Homo sapiens: one gene and its partner. The protein of the gene in region 1 purifies or fractionates together with the protein of each later gene. This does not show direct contact. Each region holds a gene or a part of one and is shown in the gene's direction. Other genes may lie near its edges.

Region 1 (3,819 bases):
ACACTGGGCCAAGTGGTGAGCAACTGGGTGTCGACTTCAGGTGTTTCCAGGTGGTGGTGCAGCTGCAAGGATATGCCAGTGGGCACGCACAGAGCCCATCCCAGGAAGAAGGTTGTCTGAAGGTGGCACTGGGTCATTTCAGGACAGATGGGACCTGCTGTTGGGAGGACAACAATGCTGCCTCCCTTACCTCTGTTATTACCCTCACCTTACTACACACTCCTCCTGCCAAGAGGATTCATTGTTACTGACCGGGCTGGTGCTTTTGCTCAGGACCTCCAGGACCTCCCGGTGTGCCTGGTCCAGCTGGAAGAGAAGGTCCCCTGGGGAAGCAGGGGAACATAGGACCTCAGGGCAAGCCAGGCCCAAAAGGAGAAGCTGGGCCCAAAGGTAGGTGGCTGGTCTGTGGCCAGTCTGAGAAGGGAAAGGAGGAAGGACAAGGGTCCATGATATGACCTGAGGCGTGCTCAGAGTGCCAGGGAGAGCCCAGACCCTTGATGCTGCAAAGGCTTGCCATGCACCCTCCCAATCCCCACAACTGCAATATTTTCCTCTCACCCTCCACAGAGGAGCCCCAGAAAGCAAGGAGAGTCTCCCCACTTCTCTCTCTGACCCTAAAGTTGCGGGCAAAAAGCTCCATTGCTAACAAAACCACACCTGCTGAACGCGCTCTTAGCTGTGTTTGTTCCTGTGTGTTCCTTCTTCAGGAGAAGTAGGTGCCCCAGGCATGCAGGGCTCGGCAGGGGCAAGAGGCCTCGCAGGCCCTAAGGGAGAGCGAGGTGTCCCTGGTGAGCGTGGAGTCCCTGGAAACACAGGGGCAGCAGGTGAGCAGTGGAAAGAGCTGGGCTGGGCTGGGTCCAGTTCTCCTGTGCCTGCTTGGAGCTGTCAATGCCTACACCCCCTCCACCACCCACAAAGGCAGAGGTGGTATCGCTGGAACATGGAGAGAATCTGTATCCAAGAAGGGTGCATGAGGGGGCTCTGGGGACTGTTCCTATCTAGGGAGAGTGAGGCGCAAGCAATGGAGAAGTCTGTATACAGGGAAGGTTAGTTGTTGGGTGGCGGGGCAGTTTTCCACAGCGGGGTTGATTGCTGGGTGACAGGGACAGTCAGTGTACAGGGAGCTGCATGGCTGGGTACTGGGGACCATCTGTCTATTTCTGGGCAATAAGGATAGTTAGTCCATGTATGGGAAGGTAAAAATGCTAAAAACAAAAAAAATAAAATGAGTACATAGCTCACCCAGTTCTTCTTTTACCCCAGGGTCTGCTGGAGCCATGGGTCCCCAGGGAAGTCCAGGTGCCAGGGGACCCCCGGGATTGAAGGGGGACAAAGGCATTCCTGGAGACAAAGGAGCAAAGGGAGAAAGTGGGCTTCCAGGTAAGGTAGCAGCTCCTGGCCCAGGGAAGCCCCGCTGGGGCATGGGTGGGCAGAGAGGAAGCCCTCCTCATCCCAGAGGAGGGGCTCTGGGATGTGTGCCCCATTAATGGCAGCTGGTGGGTGGAACTCAGGAAAGGCGGACAGGCTGGAAGGCAGGAGCATGGGGCTCTGGTCTTAGCCACTTAGTACTCATGGGAAAGCAACCTGGGCAGCTTCTCCATCTGACTATCGGGAAAACTACAACTGCCTTCCCAATTCATAGGACAGTTTTGGGCATTAAAAACCCAGTGGATAGGAAACACATGAGTGTGTATTCCTGCCCAGCAACCCCCCCACCCACCCAATGGAGATGCCATTATATTCCAAGACTTTAAAGTCACAATGTCATCTGGTTCAGTGTCAGTGAAGTACAGGCAGCAATTTGTTCATAGCAGAACCATAAGACATCCTTACACAGCAGAGGCCAGCTGTGTCAGTAGATGTGGGCTTGCTGTGGGTCAGCCCCACAATATGTGCCCGAAACTAGACACCCTTCCTTTGGGGCCCAGACTCTGAGCTCTTCCTTCGCTCTCTGGACAAGTCTTTACTTGGCCATTTTCTCCCCTCCAGATGTTGCTTCTCTGAGGCAGCAGGTTGAGGCCTTACAGGGACAAGTACAGCACCTCCAGGCTGCTTTCTCTCAGTATAAGAAAGGTGAGTTCCTGGATCTGAACCTGGACCCAGCACTGGCATTGGGCCCCACACTAGATCTTGACCTTGGTTTGGCCTTTGGCTGGGGCTAGACCTTTGGCTGGACCTGAGGCAGAGCCTGCCCTGGGTCTAGGATGGGAATGAGCTGGGACCTGTGTAGGGCTGGACCTGGGACTGTGGCAGGGGGTAGGGCTCAGGCTGGGATGGGGCTAGAAGAGGGCAGCCACCTGCTCCTGGAGCTCAAAGTAGATCCAAGGGGGCAAAGGAGGAGGATGTGGCCCCTATCACCAGCTCACCAGGCTGGCAGTAGCATAGTTAAGGCCATCAGGCTCCTGAACTACCCACCAACCTCAATGCCACCTGTGCCCTGAGATAAATTGTTGTCCTGAGTCCAGTGCAATTCAGTAGAGCCTCTCTCCTGCCTACTTTGTGCTGGTCCCTCTGATAGATAAGGGGCTACCCAACACGGGCTGCATTTCTTAGCTCAGAGGGGCCAGGTATGGGAGTCCCCAGTGATGCTGCTGCACATCCCAAGGCAGCCCAGAAACCAGATACTGTTCTGGGAACTAGGACTGGGGTTCTGCTCTGGGGGTACAAGGCAGGTGGGGGCCTGACCTTGGTATGTGGCCATCAGATATCTCACCTTAGACGTGCTCTTGGTTCAAATAGGGGGCAGGCTGCTTCTGGGCTCCAGCCACTGCTGGGCTCTACCTGCAGCTCTGGAGGTATTTTAAAGCAGACTTTGCCCTAACCCTGGAATCCTGAAGAGTCAGAGGCCTCCAGGGACACACAGCTGAGGGCCTGGTGCCTTTTTGAATCTCCACATCAGTGCCCAACTGCCCCTACTCTCCTCCGCCTTTCCTGATATCAGCTTTGAGTTCAGGCGCATCTCATTGAGCCAAAAAATAAAAGATTAAAGTTTTCTGAAGTAGTAGAGCATAAAAGGGCTGACTGGGTGCAACACAGGTTTGGCTTCTAAGTACCCAAGCTCTGAAATGAGAGTTTCAAGCATTTGGTATATATCTCTTTCTGCATATGCTCTAATTCACTCAGAGGCACAGTGACAGAAACACACAGAGGAACATGTCCATATGCACCCACTGCATGTGTGTGCACTTAAACACCATCACTCACTCCACCTCCATCTACATACATGAGCTCATATGTTGTCTATATAGCACACACAAATATGCACACACATCCAGATGAACCTTACATACTCCCACGTACCTTTGGGTAGATGCACATATATTCAAAGGCATGCCCACATATGTGCATGGCACATAAACTTAGTAATGGTACATGAACTCTTATGCTGACTTTGTTCAGGGCTGCTCTGGGTGCCACCCTGAGCCCATGGAGAATCTTAAGGACGATGAGTCAGGGTGCAGCCTGCATTCTGAGCAGCCCAACAAAGCCAGGGGCACAGCCTTCTCTGGAGCTTCCAGTGTCCTTTGCGGAAGATTTCCATGCATGGGCCCAAGAGCCACAAAGACAGACTAAAAAGAGATACTTGACATGTCACACAGGCAATGCTTTTGTGAAGTGAGCCCTCATTTTAGAGATGAGGAAATGGAAACCCTGAAAAGGGAAGTGACTTTCCCTTGCCCACGCAACAGCTTTTGTGAAGTGAGCCCTCATTTTAGAGATGAGGAAATGGAAACCCTGAAAAGGGAAGTGACTTTCCCTTGCCCACGCAATGTGGATCTGAATGCCTGGTCTTCCAGTTCCCACCCAGGGCTGTCTCCA
Region 2 (3,819 bases), on another chromosome or scaffold:
ATTGAAGGGGAGAAATGAGCCAAAGCTGACTCTTAAGATAGCAGCTGACAGAAGCAACAAGGGCAAATAAAGGTTCTTTTTTTACTTGTGCATGTTTGAAGGTAGTCTAGAAGGAACAATGTAAATGGTAGAGCTTCAAAATAAAAGAGGCCATTTTGCTATGCCTTCACCTTTTGGTAGAGAATAAATGAGATTGTCTGCAGAAAGGGTGAATATGAGTTTGAAGAGAGGTTTGAAATGGCCTTGTGGATGAATAACTCAGTGACCCACAGACTTGTCAATTAGTGTCCAAGGCTAATGGAAGTCACATGACATGAGTACTGGGAAAATCAGGCAGGCTGTGGGCAGTTCTTGGTCCCTCAGGCAGACCTATGCAGACTGGAAGCCAGAGTGAAAAGCTGGTGCTTCTTTTTGGGTTGGCCTGAGAGGAGTATGGGGTCAGAGTGAGAATGACATTGAGAGTTGAGGACCACAAAGCCCTAGCCAGGAAGAGAGTGTAGAATAGCAATACAGTATACTTCTAAGTCCCTGACTTATGATATTTGTGCAGATAGAAGAAATAAATGAGCAAATCAGAAAAGAGAAAGAGGAAGCTGAGGCTCGTATGCGACAAGCATCTAAGAACACAGAGAAATCAACTGGTGGAGGTGGAAATGGAAGTAAAAATTGGTCAGAAGATGATCTACAATTACTAATTAAAGCTGTGAATCTGTTCCCTGCTGGAACAAATTCAAGGTACTGGTTTTAATGAAACTTTTCTTCAACTCACACTGGAGCCTGGAGATAATGTAGACAGACTCCAAATAGCAGCACTTGTTATCACAGAAACTTGCAGAGATAAATTCTGTGCCACAGCAGAAAAGTGTGAAAAGTGAGGTGCATTTTGAAGCTGTCAGTCTTACCCATTGCATCAGTACACATGCACATATACATATGACAGAATACTTGTTTCTCAGGAAATTGAAGATCATGAGACAAGTCTTGATTTATGTTGGCTTACTCTGTCATGGCTTGTTCTAGGGATTAGGTTTTCTGTAGTTTTTCTTTTACAGTCTTGCTCTTTGTTTTTTCCCACCTCAAGCTGGAGCTTGAGTTTAACTGCAAGAAAGCCCTAGAGATCCAGCGTCCCTAATTCTATAGATGAAACCGAGGCTGTTTTCAGAATGATTGATCTTCTGAAGAAATGTATTAAACTGGCAGTATACACAAATAAGTGGTTTTATTTATGTTGATTTGTACACCAAATCTGTAAGATGTATGGACTTAAAACCAAGATTATCGTTGATTTAAACACATGAAAAGCAAAAACCGTAGTCCAGGCAACAGGAATTTATAGTAGCAGCATAATTAGACCACCAATCTGAGCTCATTCTGTACATACTATAACCTTTCTGCAGTAAAAATCTAATGGTTTTTGTCGTTTCATTTTGTTTTTCCTTACTACTATTCATATTATTGTATAATATATCCTATCAGATGGGAAGTTATTGCTAATTACATGAACATACATTCTTCCTCTGGAGTCAAAAGAACTGCCAAAGATGTTATTGGCAAAGCAAAGAGTCTCCAAAAACTTGGTGAGTTTTGAGAAGTCCATTTGTTACTTTAAACACCTATTTTTAAAATAACTTATGCAATTTAATGAAAGATTAAATGATGATCTGTTAAGTATTAAATTTTTTTCATTTCTCAGACCCTCATCAAAAAGATGACATAAATAAAAAGGCATTTGATAAGTTCAAAAAAGAACATGGAGTGGTACCTCAAGCAGACAACGCAACGCCTTCAGAACGATTTGAAGGTAAATTTTGCTTTTCTAAACGTAGAAAATGCTAGCCATGTATCTGTGCTGCTTGGACGTACAAGACTTAGGGTCTATGTTCAGAATGATAGGGAAATAAAATGTTTAGCAGACTGGAAGCTGTAAGCAAACATTTCCAGGGCAAAGATTTACTTCACCTAACCATTAAAAATGGAGAATTGCAGTTGTTCCATTTCAGATGCCATTAGAGAAGGGGGCTGTTTGTTTTGCTTACCAGGTTTTACAAAACAGTGTTAGAGGATATTATTGGGACTAAAGAATAGTGTTATATCGGGATAATTGCTTGATTTTGAGAAATGTACTGTAATTATATAAGAAAATGTCCTTATGTTTAAGGAAAAACACAGAAGTGTTAAGGAATAAAGAGGCATCATGTCTGTAACTTATGGTTCAAAGTATGTCTGTACATATAGGTAAAAATAATTAGCAAATATGAAAATGTTCACATTTGGGGAATGTAGGCAGAGTATACAGGGATTCTTTCTACTCCTCTAAAATTATTTCAAAATAAAATGTTAAAAATTGTTAGGGTTCAAAACCAGGAAACATAGTAAGACTCAAAAAAAAAAAAAATGTTAGGGTTTGATATTATCTTGGGTGTTGTGATTACTCTAGACCAATGCTTTTCATGTTACAAATCATGACCCATCACTGGGTCATGAAGTCAATTTAGTGTGTTGAATAGAAAATGAGTGTTACACCCATTATATGGGTGGGTATACTTGTGAAACTCTTGATCACGTGTGTCTTTGTTTAGGATGTGATATAAATTTTTTTCTTGCTATGACAAGGTTTGAAAGCAGTTTATGTGGAAAAAGTTCTTTCACTTCATGTTTTGTGAGCCACCAATCCTTTCTTAAACTAATCGCAGAAAGATGCTTTTGGATTAATAGACTTGACTATACATAAGCTGTTTCTTTCTTCTAAGAGTCCCAGTTTTACCTATATTCTTTAATCTTGCTTATTATCCCAAAATTTCAACTTAAAGATATGAGACTTACAGTGTTAATATAGGGGAGGAAAATCATTGCAAAAATCAGCAGTGACTTGTTTGGCTGAGTTAGGCATTATTTCGGTTCTTTTAATAAAGGTAAGTAACAAGGCAGGGTTTCAGAACACCTGAAAGACACTTCTTTATAAAGGAGTTTATTCTCCTGCACCTTTATCTCCACAAAATACAACAGGTATTAGCACACTAGTCTCAGCTCTTTCTTAGGGGGACTTGTTTCCATGTTGGAGGGAGGTGGGCCCTGATATTTGTCCAGTCTGCTTTCTGTGAGGAGAGGTGACCCTGTGAAGGCAAGAGTGACTGGCAGTAGTGCTATGTGGGTATGACTCCTTTGCCTCTTTTATGGAAATGGGAAGGCTCCTTCCTCTTCAGTTGTACCATTAAACAGCAAGCTGGCACCATTTTTTGAATAGTGATTTCTCATAGGAGTTTTGCAACAGTACGTTTAATTTATTTTGGTATTGTGAAGTAACTGGAGAACAGCAGGAAATACTGCCATGTCACTTCCATCTTTTTTCCAAGAGAGGAAATAAAATCTATGGTATTTAGGGCTTTAAACCAATACAAGGAAATTCAACAAAAGACTTCCTAGAACTTAAAAGCTACCTTCAAAAAAGCTTCTTAGGCACCTTAGGTACCATCAAATATTATACAAATTCTCTGCTTTGTTTTGAATAGGTGGTGGTTTTGTTTTGTTTTGTTTTGTTTTTCCTTCTTTAATTGGGAAGGAACTTTGGTTTCTAGGCTTAACTTTTAACAGATCTCACAGGCCGCAGTTTCTAGTAGTAGTCAGGCTACTGGTAGTATTAGTCTGTGTTGTCACTGCATAGTCTGAAATAACTAAATTGCCAGAAGTCCATTAACTTAACCAAATCAGCTTTCTACCACTTAACATTCTACTTTTACCTACACAAGTGGACTGTGTAATACTTAACATCCTTAAGAAACATATTTGTTTCTGACACACATCTTAGATGTTTTCTGAAAT

The links.
Region 2: the proteins of SFTPD (region 1) and DNAJC2 fractionate together in Homo sapiens (co-fractionation; one large-scale study listed by BioGRID). This does not show direct contact.

Annotation. Positions count from the first base shown.
Region 1 is NC_000010.11:79,938,959-79,942,777, reverse strand, and holds part of SFTPD (pulmonary surfactant-associated protein D precursor), read left to right. Parts: coding exon 1-15; intron 16-273; coding exon 274-390; intron 391-707; coding exon 708-824; intron 825-1,263; coding exon 1,264-1,380; intron 1,381-1,989; coding exon 1,990-2,073; intron 2,074-3,819.
Region 2 is NC_000007.14:103,313,746-103,317,564, reverse strand, and holds part of DNAJC2 (dnaJ homolog subfamily C member 2), read left to right. Parts: intron 1-550; coding exon 551-735; intron 736-1,476; coding exon 1,477-1,577; intron 1,578-1,693; coding exon 1,694-1,801; intron 1,802-2,878; exon of another isoform or gene 2,879-3,819. UniProt on the Homo sapiens protein: Acts both as a chaperone in the cytosol and as a chromatin regulator in the nucleus.